3 linked regions of the Homo sapiens genome follow. The protein of the gene in region 1 interacts with the protein of each later gene in a pairwise test. Each region holds a gene or a part of one and is shown on either strand. Other genes may lie near its edges.

Region 1 (8,356 bases):
ACATATGGAACATTTTGCGTACCTCAGTAGAGAATTGGAACAAGGTCATGGTTTCAGAGCAATTCTCAAAGAGGTGACTCAGGTCTAGAAAGCCAGATGTCAGTGTCATTCAGGAGAGATCTTCTTAACAGGAAACTCAGTAGCTATAAAGGAAAAGATAGATGTGCTAGTTACTTATTAATTAACGAACTACTACAACTTAATGTTGTAAAACAACTTTTAATATTATCACTTCCTTCGTTTTTCATAAATAACATCTTTAACTGAGAATATGTTTATTAACCTAATATCATTTCAAAATAAAATGTTATACTTAATCTCAAAAACAAATTCCTAGAAAGCCGTTTTCAAAAAATGTATAAAATAGACCTATTTATCATGACACCTTCAGGTGTGTAATTTGATTTGCCATGAATGTATACATTAATTTTTAAATAATTTTACATTTAACATTTGGGATGTGGAATGGATTTATTTTGTATCTAAGTACATGAATTAAGTAATAAACAGTAATTATTGGCAGGAGCGTCTAGAGTTTAAAATTGTGTTTCTTTACAATATTTCATTTTTTAAAATATATTTTTCCATATTAATCTGTGAAAAAATATATTAATGAAAAACTGACGCAAAGGAAATATTTTAAAATAATATTTTTTATTTCAGTTATACAAATACTTGGCTAGATATAGTTTTTATTTTGACATGTTAGAAGGATAGTTTTGAGGTAAAAGTAATTCTTTATTAAATATTTTTTTCTTCCATTTTTGTTTTGTTTTGTATTTTTGAGTTGGGGTCTTGCTCTGTTGCGCAGGCTGGAATGCAGTGGTATGATCATGGCTCACTACAACCTCTTACCTTCTCAGCTCAAGAAGTCCTTCCTCCTCAGCCTCCTGAGTAGCTGGTACTACAGGCATGTACCACGATGCCCAGCTAATTTTTTTTTTTTTAATGTTTTTGTAGAGATGGGGGTGTCAACTATGTTGGCCAGGCAGGTCTTGAACTTCTGGCCTCAGCTGATCCTGTCACCACCACCTCCCAAAGTATTGGGATTACAGGCATGAGCGACTGTGCCTGGCCCCTTTTCTTCCCTTTTTAAAACCTAATTTGAATTTCATAATATCTAGACTTACATTAATATAACACATATGCCTAATTCTATCACTTCTTTTTTTTTTGAGACGGAGTTTTGCTCTTGTTGCCCAGGCTGGAGTGCAGTGGCGTGATCTCAGCTCACCTCACCCTCCACCTCCCGGGATTCTGCTACCTCAGCCTGCCGAGTAGCTGGGACTACAGGCATGTGTCACCATGCCCGGCTAATCTTGTATTTTTAGTAGAGGCGGGGTTTCTCCATGTTGGTCAGGCTGGTCTCGAACTCCCTACGTCAGGTGGTCCGTCTGCCTCAGCCTCCCAAAGTGCTGGGATTACAGGTGTGAGCCGCCGCACCCGGCCTCTATCAGCTTTTTTATGTTTGCAGGCTTTTTGTTTTTGCTTTATTCCACTAGGTTTCCCAGATTTAGAAGAAATCTTTCATTGTCCACTTCCTCTATTTCCTTTAGATATTCTTATTTCTATTTTTTTTTTACATTTTTCTCAGTAACTAAAACTGTCTGCACATAGAAAAGAACCTGTCTAAGTTGTCATTGAACAAACCAAATGATGTTTGTGATCATTTACTTCATATAAATGTGACATTGCGTTAAACAATTAGATTGTTGGCTTTCACATTAGCTCCAATTTTGAGTTTAAATGGAAGACATCAGGAAAATAAATACCAAGGAAAACAGAACTATCTGACTTTATCAGTTATTGCCTCTTTTCCCAGATTTTTTCTTAATTTATAGCTCTTCTTTTTTTACTTTTAAGATAACTATCTCTGGGTTTCAGATGTTGCTGTTGCTAAAAAGGCGCTCTCAAGCATACACTGCGTCAGATGATATTTTTTATTATAATGTAGATTATCAAAACTTAAGCATATACTTAAAATGTTTCATAATTATAGCTGACTTTGTTTCTACAAAGGTGAAATACTAATGTTATATGTTTCTTTTTAATTTTCAAGTTATATAGATTCCTTGCTGTTCCTCATCTGTGCTTATCAGAATAACAAAGAACTCTTGTCTAAAGGCTTATACAGAGGACATGATGAAGAATTGATATCACATTATAGAAGAGAATGTTTGCTAGTAAGTTGAATGCATATAGTATGATCTTATCATTTTGTCTGACATTGGGCAAGTTTTCCAGACTCATATATAAGTGATTGACTCCATAAACTCTGAGGGGATAAGAACATGATGATGTCTATAAACTGGTTCTAGTCCCTTCAGATGGAAAAGTACACTCAGTACTTTATTCTTTTCTCTTTATGAATCCCAAGTACTATAGGTGATAAATGAGAAATGTTCTTAAAATAGCATCAGTTTGTTTACATTTCTGTATTTAGATTTCGTCATCACACTACCACTCCTTTTTTTGGTGGGAGAGGAAGGGATGCATAGATAAGCCTTAAAAAATGTTTTATGTAAGTCTATAAGAATATGCAGGCTGGCGCAGCAGCTCATGCCTGTAATCCTAGCACTTTGGAAGGCTGAGGCTGGTGGATCACAAAGTCAGGAGATCGAGACCATCCTGGCCAACGTGGTGAAACCCCATCTCGACTAAAATACACAAACACAAAAATTAGCTGGATATGGTGGTGTGCGCCTGTAGTCTCAACTACTCAGGAGGCTGAGGCAGGGGAATCGCATGAACCTGGGAAGTGGAGGTTGCCTTGAGCCAAGATCGCGCCACTGCATTCCATCCTGGCAACCAGGTGACAGAGCAAGACTCTGTCTCAAAAAAACAAGAATATACATAGAATGTATTAGAGTAATTTGTTTAACTTAAAAAATTGAATTTTCAGGTACAAGAATAGTATAGCTGACTTTAAACATACATAGAACCAAAACCTGATGGTTCCTCTGAAACCTTCAAAAAATGGTATAATGTTTCTCATCATTTTTTGTAGTAACCCAGCCACATTTGGTTATTTGTTTTACATAGGAATTGAAATGAAACCTCGTCAAGATTACTTTAGTGTTCCTTTCAGATTTTTTCACGTTGTATATTTACAAAGTGTCAGGTTCTGAGGGATACAAACATGAGTAAGATGTACTTCCTGTCCTCAGAAAACTCAGTCTGGTAGGAGACATAATTGTTTGTTCTGGAATAAGTGCCATTATGAGAAATATGCACAATGATATGCCTGAAATATTTGGGAAGAACCTTAAGAGACAAGGTAAACCTCGTCTGGATCTTGATGGATAAATAGAAGTTTTATTCATGATAGAGAAGGGAGAATATTCCAGTACACAACAGAAAATCAAGATAAATTCACTGTGGCTATCCAGGTTATGAGGAAGTGGGGTAAGGTGGAAGTGATGAAGCTGACAATACTTGTCGATGTCAGATGATGAAGAAACTTAGATGACATTCAAATGAGTTTGCACCAGTGTAAGTTTGATTAGGTTTGGCATAATGAGGTTTGTTTTCAGAAAATAATTCTGGTAATAATAATAGCATTCTAGAGGATGAACAGGAAAGAAGTAGATTGAAGTCAAGAACCTTAGAGGGGAAAGTCAAGGGACGGAGAGTGAGGACCTCAACTCATGTAGTACGGTAGGTATGATGGTGAAGGAAATGAAATCGGCATGTCATAGCTGTTGGGTGAGTGGGAAGAAGGAAATGGAAGAGTCAAAGCTGCCAAACTTACTAGTTTTTCGTTTAATATTAGGGAGTCTAATAGGAGGAACAAGGTTGGCTTTGAACATGTTTTATTTAAGAGATTTCCAGGACATTCTTTGATTCAGTGAACTTAACATTAAACTTGTCATTAAATTTTATATATCATTTAATGCATACTTCCAAAAATTGTAGTAAATACTTGAAGATTTATCTCATTTTATTCTCTTAACCCCTATGGTTGGAAGATAAAATACCCTATTATTAATATAAAGAAAGTGAAGCTAACAGATTTAGCTAATCTGTTCACGATTGGTGTATTAGTCCGTTCTCACACTGCTATAAAGATACTACACAAGACTGGGTAATTTATAAAGGAAAGAGGTTTAACTGACTCACAGTTCCACATGGTTGGGGAGGCCTCAGGAAACTTAAAATGATGGCGGAAGGTGAAGGGGAAGCAAGGACCTTCATCACATGGTGGCAGGAGAGAGAAGTGCAAGCAGAGGAAATGCCAGATGCTTATGAAACCATCAGATCTCATGAGACTCACTCCCTGTCACAAGAACAGCACTGGGGAAACTGTCCCTATGATCTGATCACCTCCCACCAGGTCTCTTCCTCAACACCTGGGGGTTACAATTCAAGATAAGATTTGGGTGGAGACACAAAGCCTAACCATATCAATTGGGTAATTGATTCATGGCCAAGTTGGACTTAATAGCACAACCATCTTTCCAAAATCAAAATAAATTGCATAAGAATTATGTGGTGTAAATCTAAATATATAACTTTTTTTATTTGAAATTCAGCTTAAAAGTCATGTTTATCATGCTGTAAACATAAGATTTTAAATAAGAACCCTTAAATATTATAGGTCTTATACCTGTATTTATCTCTTATGTTTCTTATTGCATGGATTTCTCTGTTCTACTAGATCAGTGATCAGCACACTATGGCTTGTGCTCCACCTACCACTTGTTTTTATAGATAAGTTTTATTGAAACATAGCCATGCACATTCATTTATATATTGGGTATTATTGTCTTTGTACTACAATGGCAGAGTTGAATAGTTGCAACAGAAACTTCATGGCCTTCAAAGCCTATAATAGTCCTCGTCTGGCCCTTCACAGAAAAAGTTTGCCAATCCTTGTACCAAATTGTAAGCTCCATGAGAGTTTTCTGTATTAATCACTTGAGTGCCCCTGCATCTGCAGAAATTTCTGGCACGTGGTGTTGACTCTGTAGGAAGTTTTTGAAGGGAAAAGTGAATTGATTACCTTTATATTTCTGTATCAAGGAATACAATAGTATATATTCAGTTGCCATTAATGGAGATGAGTTTTTCAAAAATTAATATGGATTCTGAATTTCTTTATTTTTAAAACTATTTTGAGTGCTTATACAATTTTATAATTTGGGGAAGTTAATCTCTAGAGAAGAAAAAATGGCCCCTGTGTTGATGATCGGCATAAGCCAAACATGACTGAAAAACACAATAATGTTTTCTCCACCGCTGTTGCTTTTGTTTCTGTTGTTGCCATATGCATAGCTTTTTCTAAAGAGAGATTTTCAGTTCTAGATAGGTTGAGATTGTTTTCTCTAAATACCGTTTGTTCTAATACTGTTTGTGAACATATTTATGTTGTCTTCCTTATTAATACTTACAGATCCTTAATTTAAAAAGGAAACAAAAACCTATTCTTTTTTTTTTCCTGCATTGCATTAAGAAATTAAATGAGCAAGCCGCAGAACTCTTCGAATCTGGAGAGGATCGAGAAGTAAACAATGGTTTGATTATCATGAATGAGTTTATTGTCCCATTTTTGCCATTATTACTGGTGGATGAAATGGAAGAAAAGGATATACTAGCTGTAGAAGATATGAGAAATCGATGGTGTTCCTACCTTGGTCAAGAAATGGAACGTAAGTTTAAACAATGGTAGTAGGCACCTGAGATGTCCGGATTAAATGCAGTTAGAATTAGATGTTATTTATTCTTGCCATTTTTTATATTAAATACAATATTAAGTATTAATATTTTCACATTCACATGATTACTCTTTTTCCATATTGATGAACTAAGCTGTGTGCATTGCAGTTGCCATTTATGTTTTTGTCTCCCCAAAATGGCAATTATCTTACCTATTAGAGTAAGTTAATATTAGTAAATCATGTTGACAATGATCGTGTAATAATTTCTATCTTTAGTTAGATTTAATTGTTTGTATTTGCAGCACACCTCCAAGAAAAGCTGACAGATTTTTTGCCAAAACTGCTTGATTGTTCTATGGAGATTAAAAGTTTCCATGAGCCACCGAAGTTACCTTCATATTCCACGCATGAACTCTGTGAGCGATTTGCCCGAATCATGTTGTCCCTCAGTCGAACTCCTGCTGATGGAAGATAAACTGCACACTTTCCCTGAACACACTGTATAAACTCTTTTTAGTTCTTAACCCTTGCCTTCCTGTCACAGGGTTTGCTTGTTGCTGCTATAGTTTTTAACTTTTTTTTATTTTAATAACTGCAAAAGACAAAATGACTATACAGACTTTAGTCAGACTGCAGACAATAAAGCTGAAAATCGCATGGCGCTCAGACATTTTAACCGGAACTGATGTATAATCACAAATCTAATTGATTTTATTATGGCAAAACTATGCTTTTGCCACCTTCCTGTTGCAGTATTACTTTGCTTTTATCTTTTCTTTCTCAACAGCTTTCCATTCAGTCTGGATCCTTCCATGACTACAGCCATTTAAGTGTTCAGCACTGTGTACGATACATAATATTTGGTAGCTTGTAAATGAAATAAAGAATAAAGTTTTATTTATGGCTACCTATGTGTTTGTAAGCAGGTATATTGTATATTAGTGTATTAGTAATACTAGATAAATGAATTTTGTCTGGGGATTAAGATTGGATAGTTAATAGATTAATACAATCTTTTAATTCTGCTCTAATGCTAGCAAATTGGAAAATGTTTAAGTCTTTGACACTTAAATTTATCTATATTTTTAACAAAGTTCTTGAACTTAGTATGGCACCGGAACCTGTTTTGAATTCAGTCAGGTTTTTACTCAAGTAAGTGGTTGATTTTTTTTAAGTCAAACTACACTGAAACTTTTATCCTTTTCTTAGATTAATCTTACTTTTTAAATGTATTTACAATATACAGCAAGGTGATTATTTCAAGAGAATCCCAAAGTACTTGAATAAGGGCTATTGTAAAATTTAAAAGAAATATTTATATATACACATATATACACATACACACATGTATATATATATTCTTCATAATGGAGGACAATGTTTTGCAATATATAAATCATTCTATTTTTGTAAATTGTATATCACTTTAATTGAAAATGTTCTCTACTAATTAATACTGTGAAACAAAATTGATGTTGTTTAACTAGAAGTTATGAGTATCTTAACTGCCTTTATTCCTTTTCAAAAAGGAAAAAGCTGTAGAACATTTTGTAGATGAAACTACTGTTTAAGATTAATGAATTAATATTGTGAATGAAAATCAAAATCCATACTTTAAAGGTAATCATGTTACTAACAACCTATTTTTGAATTCATAAAAATTTCTTTATAAATGATGTTTTGTGAACATAGTAAAATAGACCATTATACTATGTGTATGTTTGATACAGCGTCGCCAAAACTAGTGTTCTTTATTAGTGCCTCTCACAAAAGATCCTGGATGGAGGAGTAAGATGAAATATTATGCTATTATATGATGCTGTTTGTAAAGGTATTAATGTACTAGTAAGGTGTTAATGACAAGGAATTAGTACTATTCCTGTTGTAAAGTTAGATTTTGCATATTGTATCTATCAAAATATGTTTGGGTTTAGATTTTAAGTTGTCTACTGAGCAGATTTCTGCATTGGTTTTCCAGTCCTGTTAAAAGTTTAGAAACTTCATATGTGTCATCACAGCTTTTGTAAAGAAAGTATCCTTAATATTTTATGACATTCTACCACAGTGGTAAAGTTGTTTGTGTTTGTGTATAATTGACTGCTGAGATACAAAGTGCCCAAACACTATATGGAAATTATTCCTTCAAAGTCACATCCAGAGAATCATGTCACTCTTGTGCTGAAGGTAAGTATTATAATTGTATTTACTATGTACTTAAAAACCAGATTATTTATTCCTAGTAATGAATTTGAAATAACTTATTTAAAGAAAAGTGACCTTTTTCAAGACCTACAGAAACAACTTATTTTAATATTGGTTTTTAATCTAATTGTAAGGTTTAGATCATTGAAATTTCTTTTTTTTTTTTTTTTTAAATTTCCAACTTTTAAGTTCAGGGGTCCATGTGCAGGACATGCAGGTTTCTTACAGAGGTACATGTGTGTCATGGTGGTTTGCTGCACAAATCATCCCATCACCCAGGTATTAACCCCAGCATCCACTAGCTATTCTAACTGATCCTCTTCCTCCTCCCAGCCCCCACCCTCTGCCAGACACCAGTGTGTGTTGTTCCTTCCACCATTGAGTCCAATATGTTCTTATCGTTTAGCTCCCGCTTATGAGAACATGCAGTAGTTGGTTTTCTGTTCCTATGTTAGTTTGTTCAGGATAATGATCTCCAGCTTCATCTGTGTCCCTGC
Region 2 (7,678 bases), on another chromosome or scaffold:
TTGGGGAAAACTGTAAAGTGCACAATAACTCTTCAGGTCTGAAAAATATGACTTTTCAGGTTCCTGGAAGTAGATAGATTCTTATTGAGGACAAAGAATTTGTAAAAGTGTCATAGTGATCAGGTTCTTCACATCACTTTAATAACCTGCTTATTTTGTCAGGGTAAGAGACTAGACATCATTAGGCCCCAAATCTGATCTTCAGTCTACTCGTGCTTTTTTTCCGCCTCATAAAAACACATTTCCACCTTTAGGCCACTCAACATCTTATTTTTAATGAGTTATGATTTATACAAAATACTAATCACATTTTGAACTCATTGCCTTCTTTTCAATGTAGCATTCCCTAATGATGACTGTTGTCTATGTAGTCAACATAACTACTACATGTTTTCTACTCAGTTATGAACATGACTTTTTAATTTTTTCAGTAAGGTTAGTTTTTAACTCTGGATCAATAAGGCACCTCTGATATCATTGCAAAAACTGGGCATTTTTTCTTCTACCTTTTCAACCATATTTATTGAGTATCTCTTGCCAGGCAGGATGCTCAGACCTGGGATACCATCTCAGATGAATAAGACAGACCTGGTCTTTGCCATTGAATTTAACAGCTGGGAGCATGTTATAAGTAAAGAAAAGGATACGTGTTTTAACTGTTTATATTTGAAAGCATTATGGAATACTGGTGTTTTATTTTCTACACCTCATTTTCAAAAGCCTCATTTTTTTTTGTTGTTGTATGCACTAGGAGGATGTGCATGTTGAATGTTTCCTTCTAGGTCCCATTGAATGTATTTTTGAATCAATTTGTTGTCTCTTTCCTATCCCTGCCTTGTCACGGAGCCCCAGTTGGGCAGCCTTTAATTGCATTCTCCATTCCATAGCCAGCATGATGGACCCAATGCGTTCATTTAGTGCTCTCTTTGAGGATAGGCTGGTGGTAGAAGAGTGTAGGGTATAAACTTTGGAATCAGGCCGTCCTGGGTTCCAGACCCACTTGCCATGTACTGGCTGTGTAGCCTGTTGTAGTTGCTTTACCTACTAGTCATCCCTGGTCTCATTTGTAAAATGAGGATTATGGAGTTATGGTGAGGATTAAATAAAATATTGTTTTAAAGTATTTAACATGGTGCCTGCAACATAGTAAATGCTCAATAAATATCAGCTTCTGTTATTACTATTAACTCCTTAATTGGGCTTACCAGGGGCCTCTGACCTGGTTCCCATTTGACTCTGCTGCTTCACATCCCACCACAGCCCACATTTTCCCAGTCTATTTGTGTCACTACACATACACACAATGTGAGCAATTTAGGCAGCTGTTCCTTTGTTCAGGATGTCTGGAACTCCTGCTACCTGGCTAATTTTCACTCATCTTTTAAGACGTAGTTCAAGTGTCATCTTCTTGAGGAAACCTGCTTTGAATGTCCCAGTTTGAGGTAAATGTCTCCTATGAGATACAGACCTCTCACTTAGCTGGTAACAATACCAAGCCAAAGTCATATCTTTACGTAACTCTCTTGCCCATTATACCTTTAATCCTCTCAATCTTATTCAGTTTTCTATCTCTGGGATCTCTGGCAGTGCCTGACACATCATTTAGCACCCAGGAAGTGCTGAGCTGAGCCTCCACTTCATCCTACTGTATCTAATGCAACTGAGGTCGAGCATTTAACTAAGCAGTCACTGTTTGTTAGGTGTTTGGTCCAAATAGTAAAATCTTTACTTTCAGTTAGAATAGTTTTAGTTCTGATCACAATAAGTAATTTGACTGTTTTTGAAGTATGGAATTGGTTCTTGTATTCTCATGAAATATGGAAAAAGATGTTTCAACTTCTGACAAACATGATGGAAAGCTGCTAGAAGTTTTCATGCAATTCCTTTAGCCATAAATTTTGAATCAGTGTAGGGCCTTGAAAGCCACTGCAAAATTTTAAATAAAGTCACCAGAGGAATTATCCAGTAGATACTGATTCCTCTTTTTTTTTTTTTTCATAGAAGGGTGTCGGAAAGAGAATTTTATTACGAATGAAGTGCTAAAATCTAAATTTATTTTTTAAGTTTCTTTTTTCATTGGGTTTTATGTTTTGGTTTATAAGGGTGAAGCAGCGTTGGTTGAAGGGAAGTGTGGTCTTGTAGCCACCACTGCCTACTCTAGAGTAGCGTGGATATTATTTAGGTCTGATGCAAACCACCAAAGCAGTTTTAAATAGGGTGCAGGGGAAACATACTTCCTGGCTACAGCATGGCATTATTTGGCCAAGTTCCACATAAAAGCATAACTCTGTTACCTTGTTAGCTTCTACCCTCCAGGTCCTTATGTACAACTTCAGCAGATTTAAGTTATGATTTTCAGTAGAACAGATATGCATTCGCAGCAAGAATGCTCACCGCTTCTTTTGCACTCTCTACTTTCCTGGTAATATTTTGCTCCACAGGTACTTGTTGCTTGTGACTGAGGCAAGATAATGACTCATACTTCTTTGCTTGGCATGCCAAAGGGTTTGGAATGCTGGACAGGCAAATTGTCTCATCTCAGGGAGAAGGAAGAGAAAGACAATTAACATTTGAGAACCTACCCTGAGACAGCCACTTGATATTATGTATCTCATTTAATCCTAGGAAGAAATCTCCAAGATAAGTTTTATTATCTTTATTTTATGGATGGAAAGATGGATCCTGCTCAGGGTCTCTCTGGAGTTTTGCCTGGGTGCATGTATGAGTGTGTGGCCCAAGCTTCTTGTGCTTGCATGCTGCTAGGTTCTTTCGTGTGGTCTCTATGTGTGTATGCGTGTGTTGGGAGGGAGGCTGAAGAGGGGTGAATGGATATCAGATTTGAGAGAGGGGAAGCTTACCATCTAATGTCATCAGTTCAGTGCTCCTGATTTAATTGATTTGGTTTGCTTGCATTATCTGCCTCCTTCCTGACTACATTTGTACCACAGAAAATCAAGATAAGGCAGAGTTTCTTTGCATAAGGAAACTCTACAGCCCACAGTTTGACAATGGTGTCTTAGTGGTAGGACTCATGGTGGGTGACCTGTGGTTTGGCCACTTATAGCAGTTGGACATACCCCATTTGCAAAGATGTGTATTGTAAACCCCAAATTTTGAGTGTGTAGGACAATCATTTGTGTACAATCGTGTACAACTGCTGATGAGGGCAAGAAGAGCCGACTTTATCCAACATAACAAAGAAGAAGGGGACAGTTTGACTTTTGAAGGGGACAATTTGAAAACTTATAGGAGGTTAAGATTCTCTTCCTCACCCATTACATCAGGAGTACTTCTGCCTTTTACTTGCCACAGTCAGCTTTCTAGGTCTTAGCACCCAACAAGTAGCAACTATCCTCTTGGGTGTAGTCAGTTTAGTCTACTTATGGCCTCCTGCTTAGACTCTTAAGGGTTCCCTAGCATCTGTGTTTTGTTTGTAGGTTTGAAGCTATCATTATTAGATGAGATTTAGCTTCAGGGCCCGTACCTATGACTGGGGAGATTCTATCTGGGAAAGGTCAAGACATGCAGCTCTTTTTTTTTTTTTTTTTTCTTCTCTTTTCTGAGGGAATATTTTCCTCCAATTTTTTTCAGCTCTACAACTAAAATATAGACCTAGTATATGAACACAACTGGCCTCTGTCCTGGGCCTTAGATGGTACTCTGCTGTCATTCTTCTCTGGTCAGAGCCATGCCTATGGGGTGAGGTGACTTTTGGGCCTTCCAGTCTTACTCTCTTTTCATTTTTAGACCATGATTTGGTTATGTGGGAACCCACATTCGCTGTCCAGAAGGCCCTGAACTGGTATCTGCAGTTTGCATGGATCCTTGAAGCCATCTTCCTGAAGGCTGTCATTGCTACTGGTTGTGCAATCTCTGCACGAGGGTTGTTTAAGGGATAGCTCTGTGTGTGTGTGTGTCTGTATGTGAGAGAGAGAGAGAGAGAGAGAGAGAAAGAGAGAGAGAGACAGAGAGCGAGCTTGGGTGTCCACATATCACAAGGCCCCTCTTGATGTAGGATGGAGCAGGCAGGGGGGAGGAAGGCAAATTGATTACCAGGGCTCAGGATGATGTCTCTCTTTAAACCACCCATTTCTGTGGAAGGACTATGAACATTGTAGGAGTTCTAAAGTTGTACCTGGTCTTCCAAGACATTGAAAAGATATATTTGTCAGTCTAGGTAGAAGGATAACACCTATTTTATTGAGCAGTTTGCTAGCTTGATTTGTAACTTTAAATGTTTTGACTTATGGTACATGGGCCTCTATTTGCTCACTTGCCTTGGGCCTTCCCATGTTGGGGGTGGATCTGCAGCAGCAACATTCCTTTGCAGAGATGTTGGGTAGAAATAAGTTTTGGTTAATTGTACCATTTTTTCCCTGGAATAGACAACATTGAACATTAAAGAAAAAATGAGTTACTTTGTAGACATAGTGCTCTATTTCCTTTGGGAAATGTAGTTTTTCTTAGTTTGCGTTGTCCTGAAGTGAACTTTAGCTCTATACTTTTTTTCTTTCCTTTTTTTTTTTTTTTTTTTAGATTTCCTAGTGCCCTAGTTGCATTTCTTCTGTGTATTGAGAGACCACCAGGCGGGCAAGGTGAAGTTTATCTGAATGTTTTTTCCTCCTATTGTAAATATTTTATTTGAACCAAAAAAAGGCTTGGTTCTTCTCAAGCCTCTTTAAAGAAAACAAGGAAAAAGGCTTCTCAGTGCTTTAGAAGATATAAGATTGTCAAAACTTCATTTTAGAGAACTAGGGATTTGGTTGAACCAACATGAATGCCTTTGAAAGAAGATATGGGTTGGGTGCATATTTTCAGTATATGCTGCAGCAGCTCTTTATTAAAGTATAAATCATTACGAAGTCTTCATTTCCTATGGGGCGATAACACTGCTGCTTTGTGGATGACTACCTGTCACGCCCAAATCCTGCAAACTTTTCTACATAGGGAAATGAAATTGGGCTTATTTCCCCTGTAGCTTTTCTCAAGAGACTTCATGGACTAATTTCCCAATAATCATAGTAGCTACCACTTATTGAGGTCTTGCTACTGCACGGATCATGCTGAGTACTTCAGGTGTATTAACCCTCAAAACAACTTTAGAAGGTAGGTTATATTATGCTTATTATAAATCCTCCAGAGTCAATAAATTTGCCTAAGTCCACCTAGTTAGAAAATGATTAGGCTGGGGTTGGAACCAAGATGGTCTGGTTTGGGGATCTAGATTCCTAATTGTTATACTGTACTGAGACTAGTCTGCCTTAATTGACATAAACTACTTGTCCATTATAGCATGGGTGTTGGAAGACTAGAGGTTAAGAGAAATAATAATATCCAACATTTTTCTAGTGTTTTAGCATTCTTCATATATTATCCCATTGCATTTTCTTAGTGTAATAAAATAACACTCGGTTTATACACCAGGTAGTCAAACATCATGCCTGTCTTGTGATCTCAATGGAAAAATGAAGTGTATACCTCAAGTGATACAGTCTTGGCTGAATCATGGAACAATTATGCCATCAGGAAGTTTAGGTATTCTGAGTAAAACAGGCACTTTATTTGAAAGGACTGGGAGACTTCACAGATGCATCAAATATGTTGAGGATATAAATGCCAGGCTCAGGTGGATTTACTGTGAAGTGCTTGAACTTAACCTTCAAGGCTACCTATACCCTGGTATAGGTCCATCTCCTGGCTCTAGGAGAGGCCCTGGCAATGTGGTTAACAAGTGTCATCAAGTCAAATACTACGAAATCTTGCAGTGCCCTGAATCTTACAGCTCACATATAAAAGAAACCTGATAAAAGTTTTCCAAATTTGAAGTCAATCCAAAAAATTTATATGACATTACCTGTAATGAATTATGAAGCTGAAAGGAACTTTTCCAAATTATTCAAGAATAAATTACAAATTCTGATCTACATTTCTAAAGGGAAGACTGAATTATTTTTCTATTCTCTCAATAGAGAATATTGCAAAATGTTATTGGAAGAGATGATCAAAGAGTGTGCAACCAAAAAATATAGGAGAATTATTTCAGAGGTATGGCAATCAGTTAATAAAAATATTTGTTTTTTAAACACTTCATATTTGTAGTATTTATAGCTTTTAAAAATTTGTTGTTTGTATGATACTATTTAAAATTTTTTTTCCAGAGATGAGATCTCATTCTGTCACTCAGTCTGGAAAGCAGTTGCATAATCATAACTCACTGCAGCCTTGGAGTCCTAGGTTCAAGCAGTCCTCTAGAGTAGCTCGGACTAAAGGCATGCACCACCAAGACCGGCCAGTTTTTTGTTTTTTGTTGTTTTTTAATTTTTGTAGAGATGGTGTCTTACTATGTACCAAGTCTGGTCTTGAACACTGGGGCTCAGAGGAACCTGTCCACCTCTGCCTCCCAAAGTGTTAGGATTACAGGTGTAAGCCACTGCACCCGGCCTGTATGCCATTTTAATTCTAAATAAATATTCACTTTATTCTTAATTTTATATTCACTTTATTCTTAATTTTGTATTCTTCTTCTTAAAGAGTGCCCCTGAAATTTACAAGCTTCAGATTCCAAAGACCTGAGTCTTTGACTAATGGTAGGATTTGTTTGTTGGTTTAGAAAATAAATGTTAAAAAATGCCTCTTCCTCCTTCCCCCCATTGCAAACAGAGACTGAAATCTGCATTGTTATTTCACAAAACCAAAATATTTTTCCTCCAGGTTTAGCTAAACCCTTCATCATTTTCCTACTTTAGAGCCCCATGCCAAGTAGAAAAGAAGTTGCAAAGATGTAATTATCACAAACCTTCATCTTGGATGAAAGATAACCTAGCTCTGACCCTTAGTTTGAGATTAGAAGGACTCTACCTAGGAGACAGCTGGTAAAGACTAAGGTATGTTGTACCAGGAATCTAGGTGTCTGGGTGACCAGGCTGTCTTTCTTCCCACTGGGGCTCATTTTCCTTCTATACAGTGACAAGAATTGGACTAAATAAGATTTCCAGTATTTTCTCTTCTGAAACATTTCATTCTTTGTTATCCCTGTACTATTTTGTTAGTAGAATAAATCATTGAAGTTGAGTTAGAAAATCTTTAGCTAATCAAAATAGAAAACTAACAAAAGTCATGACAGGTCAGAACTGAGAAATACCACAGACTTCCACTGGTGTTCATTGGAGATGACTACTATTAAAAAAAGAGAAGAAAAAAAACCATAGCTATTTTGAAAATTTCCGACTACAGGTGTCTGAGCATACATCCTGACTAAATAGCATGTTTACTTCAGCTAGAGCTCACTCCTTCCTAAATAAAAGGCTTACTTGGTTTTGGTGGTAATATTATTCCTCTTTGGTTAATTATGGTATTTTCATTCTCCCCTTCCTCTGAATTGGTTAAAATGTCTGTGAAAATTTTTCCTAAGGTAGAAAGTTATGAAATGCTTTGCTATGCCTAGGAGATGTAAAGCCTAAAGGAACTTTCATATTTTTTGGGAAAAAAAAAAAAGGAAACTTGTCTAGATATAATTAGTGTTCTGTTGCCTTTCAAATATTTCTCTACCACTTTTCTTAAAATATTCTCAGAAAAGACAGAATTTGCAACAGATTGGCAGTTTTCAGACTGCTGTTTTAGGCAGGGGAGTAGCTGCCGCAACCTCTAATTGCATTTCTGTAGAGTTTGCAGACACTTG
Region 3 (7,678 bases), on another chromosome or scaffold:
TGTGGAGGTGGGAGAAGAGCCTGAGGGGCGTAGCCGAGGCATCCTGGACCTGGGCCTGGGCCAGCTACTCCGTTCCTCACTCTCCCTGCTTCTCTTCCACCCCCAGGTGGGAGACTTGCGTGTCTCCTTTTCCTATGCTGGACTGAGCGGCGATGACCCTGACCTGGGCCCAGCTCACGTGGTAACCTGGCTTCCCAGGGGCAGACACTAAGTCAGAGCCTCACGACTTTCCTGGACACAGACACCTTGGTCAATGTCAGGAGCGCTTGGACCCCCTTTTCCCTGGGGAAAGGCACACTCTCGCACACACTCTCAGCCAGGCACGCTTCTGAGCAGTTTCAGAGCTCCCATGTCCCCACAGCCATCCATGGACCCCACGTTAAGAAGGGCAGCTCAAAAGGGGTCTCATAGTCGCACCTTATGACAGGTGTTCCAGTCACACACAGACCCTCTCCCCAAGCCCGTTTTGATCTGTCAATAATTGGTCTTGCGTTCCTGGCCTATGTGCAGTCCTGCCCCATCCCCTGCTCTGCGCACTGCCCAAGAGCTTTGAATGCCTGGAGCTTTGAATGGAGCAGCTCAGCCAGAGCTGCAGAGGTGGATGCATCCCAGATGGATGTATAGAGAGAGAAGCCCCAGGGTTTCTGTGCTCACTTCCCCAGCCGGCACCCAGTCCCGGGAGGGTGGGCCATGGCTCTCGTGGGCGTGTCTCCCGCTGGTCACCCCTCAGCTCTAACACCAGGTCCTCTGACCAGGTCACTGTGATTGCCCGGCAGCGGGGTGACCAGCTAGTCCCATTCTCCACCAAGTCTGGGGATACCTTACTGCTCCTGCACCACGGGGACTTCTCAGCAGAGGTGAGTGCTGTGCCCTACTCGTACGGTGGAGGAACAAGCATGTCCTTCCTTCCTTCCAGTGGTTATTTAATAAGATCACACTACCAGGGGTCATAGCCAGTGAATGAGGCAAGAAGAAGAAATAGCGGAATGTTGAGTATGCCTCATCAAAGTGTTTGACCAGGAGTGTTTCAGATTCCAGATTTTTTTGGATTTGCAGGTATTTGTATATACATAATGAGATCTCTTGGGGATGAGAACCAAGTCTAAACACAGAATCTATTTATGTTTCATGTATACTTTGTACACATCGCCTGAAGGTGATTTTATACAATGCAACCCGTCACATGGGGTCAAGTGTGGGATTTCCACTAGTGGCGTCATGTTGGCATTCAGAAAGTTTTGGATTTTGGAGCACTTCAGCATTTGGGTTTTTGGATTGTGGATGCTGAGTCTGTCATGAACCCTCAGTGTGCAGGACTGTGCTAGGCACTAAACTCACTGTGCCTCACAGACTGTCCGGTAGAGGAGTGAGAGTGACAGAAACTCGTAAGTACTGATGCATCGTGCCGAGTGTTGGAAAGAGGAGAACAGGTGCTCTGATACCAGTGGACGTCAGAGTAGAACATCCGTTTCTGCAGTGATCAAGCAGGGCCTCTGACAAGTGAGTTTTGCTGACGAGAAGGGGTTAACCCTAGAAGAATCAGTGATCAGTCAGTTCCAGCAAGAACAGCCCAGTCTGGGCACGAAAGGGTTCACCTTCTAAGGGGGCACCCGGAGTGCTGTGGCCACAGCCCAGAGCGGGGAGAGGGAGTGGGTGGGGGGGCTCCACCAAAGTCTGTGTCCTTCCAGAACATTAGGAGGGCGGGGAAGGGTTTTGGGCCTCAGCTACCTGAGTATCCCTCTCCCATTGTAAATAGGGAGGGCTATGCCTACCCCGGGTCCCAAGGAGAAGGGGTGCCAAGATGTGCTGATTAGTTCAGTTCTGTGCCTTAAAAGTTAGCCTGTCTTCTCTAGGCAGGCAATCCTTCTCTGCAGCAGAAGAATTGAGTCTTTAGTTTTTCTGTTGTTGATGAACACAGGTATCCCTGGTGGGGCACTCTATACCTGCCCTAACCAGGACTGCTGGGGTTTTCATTCCAGAGTGGCCAGAAAGGGTCAAGGCAGCAGACAGGCATCAGGGGTTAGCTGTGACCTTTTGTTCCTATTATTAGATCCTCAGCAGCCATCTGTCCCATTAGCCTCCAGCTTGTGGTGGTGCTTGGGCCTCACCAACTCCTGGTACCTGGCCAGGGCTAGGGTGTGGTCAGGCTGTTGCCCAGGAGCCCAGTTACCAACCTCAGGGTAGGGCTGCCACCTCCCAGCCTAGAAGGCCATGAGTCACCCTTCCACCAGCAGCTGAGGGTCCCCAGCGAGTTTCTAAAATTAGGAGGCCCAGTCCAGGCCTTGCTCTCTCTCCCAGGGCTGAGGCCCAGCTCACGCAGCCGCCCCTCCAGAGAGGAGTGGATGGGGCCCATGGCTTAGGTAATGCCCCAGAAAGGAAGGCCCTGCAGTGCAGATGCTCAGGCGGCCTCCTTACCCCCTGGGTCTCCTGCTGCTTAGCAGCCCCAAAGCCCTGTCTTCCCCCAGCCCAGCCCCCACCCCCACACAAGGTCTGGGGTCTCTGCCAAGTAGAAAAAAGGCCCAGAGCCAGGCAGGCAGCTCAGGGCAAAAGTCAGGATGCCCCGATTCCAGTCCCAGGGGCAGGAGAGTACAGCTGCCCAAGCAGGCACACTGCAGACGGCCCTGGCACTGCCTCCCACCTGCTACAGGACCTTGAGCTGGTGCTGATCTCTCAGCCTGTTTCCTCATTTGTGAAGGGGAAGATGTTTAAGTACTATTAGTAATAGTCACATCATCCCTAACTGGTTTGGTCATTGAGGATTATTCATTCATTCAGCAAGTTTTCATTGAACACCAGGTACTTCACAGACATGCTCCCTGCTCTTGGAAATGTAGCGTTTAGTTAACTGCTTGAGGTGAGACCTTGGGCACATGACTTATTCTCTCAGAGCCTCAGTTTCATCATCTGTAAAGTGGAGGTAAGTATTCCTACCTCACTGAGTGAATTTGAGAATTAAATAATACTTGTAAAACACTTAGGACAGTATCAAATAAATGGTGAGTGATAAATGTGACCTGTTTTTGTTGTTACGGACTCTGAGAGAGGGCCCGATTCAGATCAGAGGGTCAGGGAAAGCCCTCTGAAGAAATGGGGTTCAAGCAAAGCTCAAAAGAATATGTAGGAAGCTGGCCAGGCATGACTGCAGGCAATCGTTGTAGGCAGAGCAAACCCACGCGCAGATACACAGGCGAGAGGACACTTGACCTGGACTGGGGACAGCAGCCAGCAGGGTCAGGGCACTGGCAGCAGGGTCGGTGTCCGGGGGGTGTGGCAGGGCTCTGGCAGGTGACTGTGTGGAGAACACAGAGTGGGTGATAGAAGCAGGGCCAGTGAGGCTCCTGCGGGCAGACAGTGGTAAGAGACTCGGGAATATGTGGCCTGGACTGGATGGGGTGGTAGGGGAGGAGCGAGCCATGTCTTTCCCATAGATGTGAGTGGGTGGGTGGGTGTGCCATGTGCTGAGATGGAGAAGGCGCCAGTGTCAGCACTAGACAGGCTGAGATGTCAAGTGGAAATGTCAAGGAGGTGGTGGAGGTGGTGGGAGCTGCAGGGCTGTGAGGCCCGGGAGAGGGCCAGAGCTGCAGCTTTAAATTGGAGGGTCACGGCATGTGGAGGCCAAGGAAGCAGATGGGATGTCCGGGGAGAGAGTATGGACTGAAGCAGCTAAAGAATTGCAGCATCTAATGGACAGGAAGAGGGGCAGCGACAGCGATGGAGCCTGAGAAGGAGGGTGCAGTGTCCCCAAGCCATGTGGAGAGGTTCTGAGATTAAACAGATCACACACATAGCGCAGAGCATGCTGCCCAGCAGACATCCTCCAACCTGCTCAGGGGTGGTGGGCAGGGTCCTGCTCATTCCAGGTGAGACCGTGGGCTGAGGGCTCCAGGTGCTGGCAGGCTCTGAGCTGAGGAAGGCCCGTACGTTCCACAGAGATCTCATGCCTTGCCCTGTGCTCTGCCAGATGGGCAGAAGGACTTAGCCCTATAGGAGGCTTGCCCCCACTCCGTCTGGCCTGTTCAGAAATGGCCAACAGCTCCCGAGTTGGTACAGCCCCCTCAGGACCTGCCCTGCCGACTGGGTACGCCACTGGCCCTCAGCATCCTGACCTGCCCCCACCTTGTCCTGCAGGAGGTGTTTCATAGAGAACTAAGGAGCAACTCCATGAAGACCTGGGGCCTGCGGGCAGCTGGCTGGATGGCCATGTTCATGGGCCTCAACCTTATGACACGGATCCTCTACACCTTGGGTAGGTGTTGGGGTGGGTCACTGCCCTCCCTCCTGCACCCTGAAAGGGCCTCCTCTGCCTGTCGCATCATCTCAGCCCTTCCAGCCTGATGGGATGGCCCTTGTGCAGATACCAGGCATTTGGCTCATCTCTGTGTCCCCGCTCCATAGCCTTGGGATGAGGGAGCAGAGGAAGGCAGGCTTGAGGGCAGGAGCTGCCAGGGGCCAGGCTGGGTGGGGCCAACTCTGGGGCACTGGTCTCACTCCACAGCCTGAAGGTTCGTCCATCTGCTGGCTCGATCATTTGCTCATTCCTTTGATCCACAATTGAATACCACATGGGAGCCTGCCAGACCTGCATTTGAAATCTGTCACGTCCAAGCTCTGGATGCTTGGCCGTTCCCTTCCCATCTCAGCTTCAGTCACCTCACCCCTTACATGCAGAGTTTTATGAAATGTGGCAAATAGGAAACACCCAAAACTCTCATGCTTCCTTCCTCACTCCAAAACCTGGGCTAGATTTGGGCAGCCAGCAAGTCTGGAGCATGAAGGAGAGTTCTGGGCCACTCCTTGACCTGAGGTTGGCACCAGTGAGCCCAGTAGGAGACCTGTGGCCCAGCGTGGTTCGGGATCTGAGTGCCCAGGGTGACTAAGTGCGTTCTGGGCCCAGGAGGATGGGGTTCCTCGGAGGACTCTCCATCCAAGCCTTTCCCTGGTGTGTGTCCCTTCCAGTCACATGATTGCATCAGTCTTCTCTGGGTGCCAACAGAAACCTCTTCCCCACTCAGCATGCACAAGTCAGAAGAGGTCTGGCTGCACATCTTGGGCTGTCTGAGCTGGGGGGACCACCTCCTTTGTTTACAGTTGGGAAAACAGGCCCGGGAAGGGAAGGACTCTCCCTGAGCCTTTCTTTGGACAGCTGAATTGTGCTCAGAAAGACCAGTGACGTGGTGGGCACATTAGCGAGAGATGAGCATTTAAACGGAATCCTCTTTCTTGCCTGTGTGACCCTGGGGAGACCAGTTCCCTTCTGGAGCCTTGGTTTCCTCGTGTCTGTCTCAGTGGGCCCTTCTTTGGATCTCTGATGTCTGTGATCCCAATTCACTCTACGTCTGGAATGCGCCAGACTCAGGACAGACTTAGAGTGTGGAGGGACCCCCAGGGTGGGTGGGGAGAGTTGGGAGCGCAGCAGGGAAGCACACAGTTCCCCATGCGTTTGATAAATACCAACGTGTGTAAGACTCCACAGCTAGAGACAGACAAGACTTAGAGCAACAGCTCAGAGCCCAGGCTCTGGGCCCATACGGTCTTGAGTTCAAATCCTGGTTCTGGCACTTTCTAACAGGAGGACTGGTGGTGAGTTTCTTAATTCCCTGAGTCTCAGTGACCCTGTGGGTAAAATGGAGTTAAGAAGAGTACCTACCTTACAGGGTGGGCATGAGTGCTTCATGAGATGGTGCACATGGTGCCTAACACAGGCAACGTTCAGAAACATGAACTTTGCTTATTATAAGGGCTGAGTAGCAGTGCTGTATGGGAACAGATCAGGATGAGGCCAGGTAGTGGCTTGCAGGGTGTGCTGCAGGCATGGTGGGGCACCAGGGCTTGCTCTGCAAACCCAGTGATTCCAGACCATTGGTGGCCTCCTGGGAACTGAGCGAAGATTCCCTGAGTGGACATCAGCTATGGAATGCCAACCTGGAGAGGTCACACAAGGCAAGAATAGGGTAATTCCTCATGAATTTAGCTGGATTCTGGGCTTTATCCTATTGGACCAATAGTCTGTGAGATTCTTGAGGAGAGGCCAATGCTTAGGCTAATTTATTTCCTCTAGCACCTGCTGGTTCAGTGCTGGGCACATAAATCATTAGTAACAGCCTGCTGCATGAATGAACCAACACCTCTAGGAATGGCTGAGAGGCCCAAATAGGCACCTTCAGGAGGCTCCACCCACAGCCTCTTGTATGAGTGTGCAGGACCCAGGTTATTTCTAGCATTACAGGCAAATGTCTTTATACTGGCCTCAGACTACTCTCCACATAAAGTATTAAAGTTTACAAAGCACTGCTACATCCTCTCCCCTGGATCAGGGTAGAGTGGGTGGCTTAGGCAATGTGCCCAACCACGCAGCTCATAGCAGAGGCTCCTGTGCTCCCTTAGCTTTCAGAACGAAGCTCCTTGCCTTCCACCCACTGATCCTCTCCCCTCCTCATGCATGTAGCAACATGGGCCCATCCTCATCTAGGGACAGGAGAGATCTGCTGAGCTGGTGAGGTGTAGAGCAGGTGGCACCTCATCACCTTTCTCCTTTCCACAGTGGACTGGTTTCCTGTTTTCCGAGACCTGGTCAACATTGGCCTGAAAGCCTTTGCCTTCTGTGTGGCCACCTCGCTGACCCTGCTGACCGTGGCGGCTGGCTGGCTCTTCTACCGACCCCTGTGGGCCCTCCTCATTGCCGGCCTGGCCCTTGTGCCCATCCTTGTTGCTCGGACACGGGTGCCAGCCAAAAAGTTGGAGTGAAAAGACCCTGGCACCCGCCCGACACCTGCGTGAGCCCTAGGATCCAGGTCCTCTCTCACCTCTGACCCAGCTCCATGCCAGAGCAGGAGCCCCGGTCAATTTTGGACTCTGCACTCCCTCTCCTCTTCAGGGGCCAGACTTGGCAGCATGTGCACCAGGTTGGTGTTCACCAGCTCATGTCTTCCCCACATCTCTTCTTGCCAGTAAGCAGCTTTGGTGGGCAGCAGCAGCTCATGAATGGCAAGCTGACAGCTTCTCCTGCTGTTTCCTTCCTCTCTTGGACTGAGTGGGTACGGCCAGCCACTCAGCCCATTGGCAGCTGACAACGCAGACACGCTCTACGGAGGCCTGCTGATAAAGGGCTCAGCCTTGCCGTGTGCTGCTTCTCATCACTGCACACAAGTGCCATGCTTTGCCACCACCACCAAGCACATCTGTGATCCTGAAGGGCGGCCGTTAGTCATTACTGCTGAGTCCTGGGTCACCAGCAGACACACTGGGCATGGACCCCTCAAAGCAGGCACACCCAAAACACAAGTCTGTGGCTAGAACCTGATGTGGTGTTTAAAAGAGAAGAAACACTGAAGATGTCCTGAGGAGAAAAGCTGGACATATACTGGGCTTCACACTTATCTTATGGCTTGGCAGAATCTTTGTAGTGTGTGGGATCTCTGAAGGCCCTATTTAAGTTTTTCTTCGTTACTTTGCTGCTTCATGTGTACTTTCCTACCCCAAGAGGAAGTTTTCTGAAATAAGATTTAAAAACAAAACAAAAAAAACACTTAATATTTCAGACTGTTACAGGAAACACCCTTTAGTCTGTCAGTTGAATTCAGAGCACTGAAAGGTGTTAAATTGGGGTATGTGGTTTGATTGATAAAAAGTTACCTCTCAGTATTTTGTGTCACTGAGAAGCTTTACAATGGATGCTTTT

The links. Proteins that work in one complex are often made in the same cells at the same time.
Region 2: the proteins of USP25 (region 1) and TGFBR2 interact in binary tests that used the Homo sapiens proteins (3 or more experiments, as listed by UniProt).
Region 3: the proteins of USP25 (region 1) and TMEM43 interact in binary tests that used the Homo sapiens proteins (3 or more experiments, as listed by UniProt).

Annotation. Positions count from the first base shown.
Region 1 is NC_000021.9:15,872,344-15,880,699, forward strand, and holds the end of USP25 (ubiquitin carboxyl-terminal hydrolase 25), read left to right. Parts: intron 1-2,059; coding exon 2,060-2,183; intron 2,184-5,452; coding exon 5,453-5,648; intron 5,649-5,959; coding exon 5,960-6,132; 3' UTR 6,133-7,721; downstream 7,722-8,356. UniProt on the Homo sapiens protein: Deubiquitinating enzyme that hydrolyzes ubiquitin moieties conjugated to substrates and thus, functions in various biological processes including inflammation and immune response.
Region 2 is NC_000003.12:30,609,601-30,617,278, forward strand, and holds part of TGFBR2 (TGF-beta receptor type-2 isoform B precursor), read left to right. Parts: exon of another isoform or gene 1-5,060; coding exon of another isoform or gene 5,061-5,106; intron 5,107-7,678. UniProt on the Homo sapiens protein: Transmembrane serine/threonine kinase forming with the TGF-beta type I serine/threonine kinase receptor, TGFBR1, the non-promiscuous receptor for the TGF-beta cytokines TGFB1, TGFB2 and TGFB3.
Region 3 is NC_000003.12:14,135,052-14,142,729, forward strand, and holds part of TMEM43 (transmembrane protein 43), read left to right. Parts: intron 1-106; coding exon 107-181; intron 182-755; coding exon 756-857; intron 858-4,128; coding exon 4,129-4,246; intron 4,247-6,541; coding exon 6,542-6,744; 3' UTR 6,745-7,678. UniProt on the Homo sapiens protein: May have an important role in maintaining nuclear envelope structure by organizing protein complexes at the inner nuclear membrane. Required for retaining emerin at the inner nuclear membrane.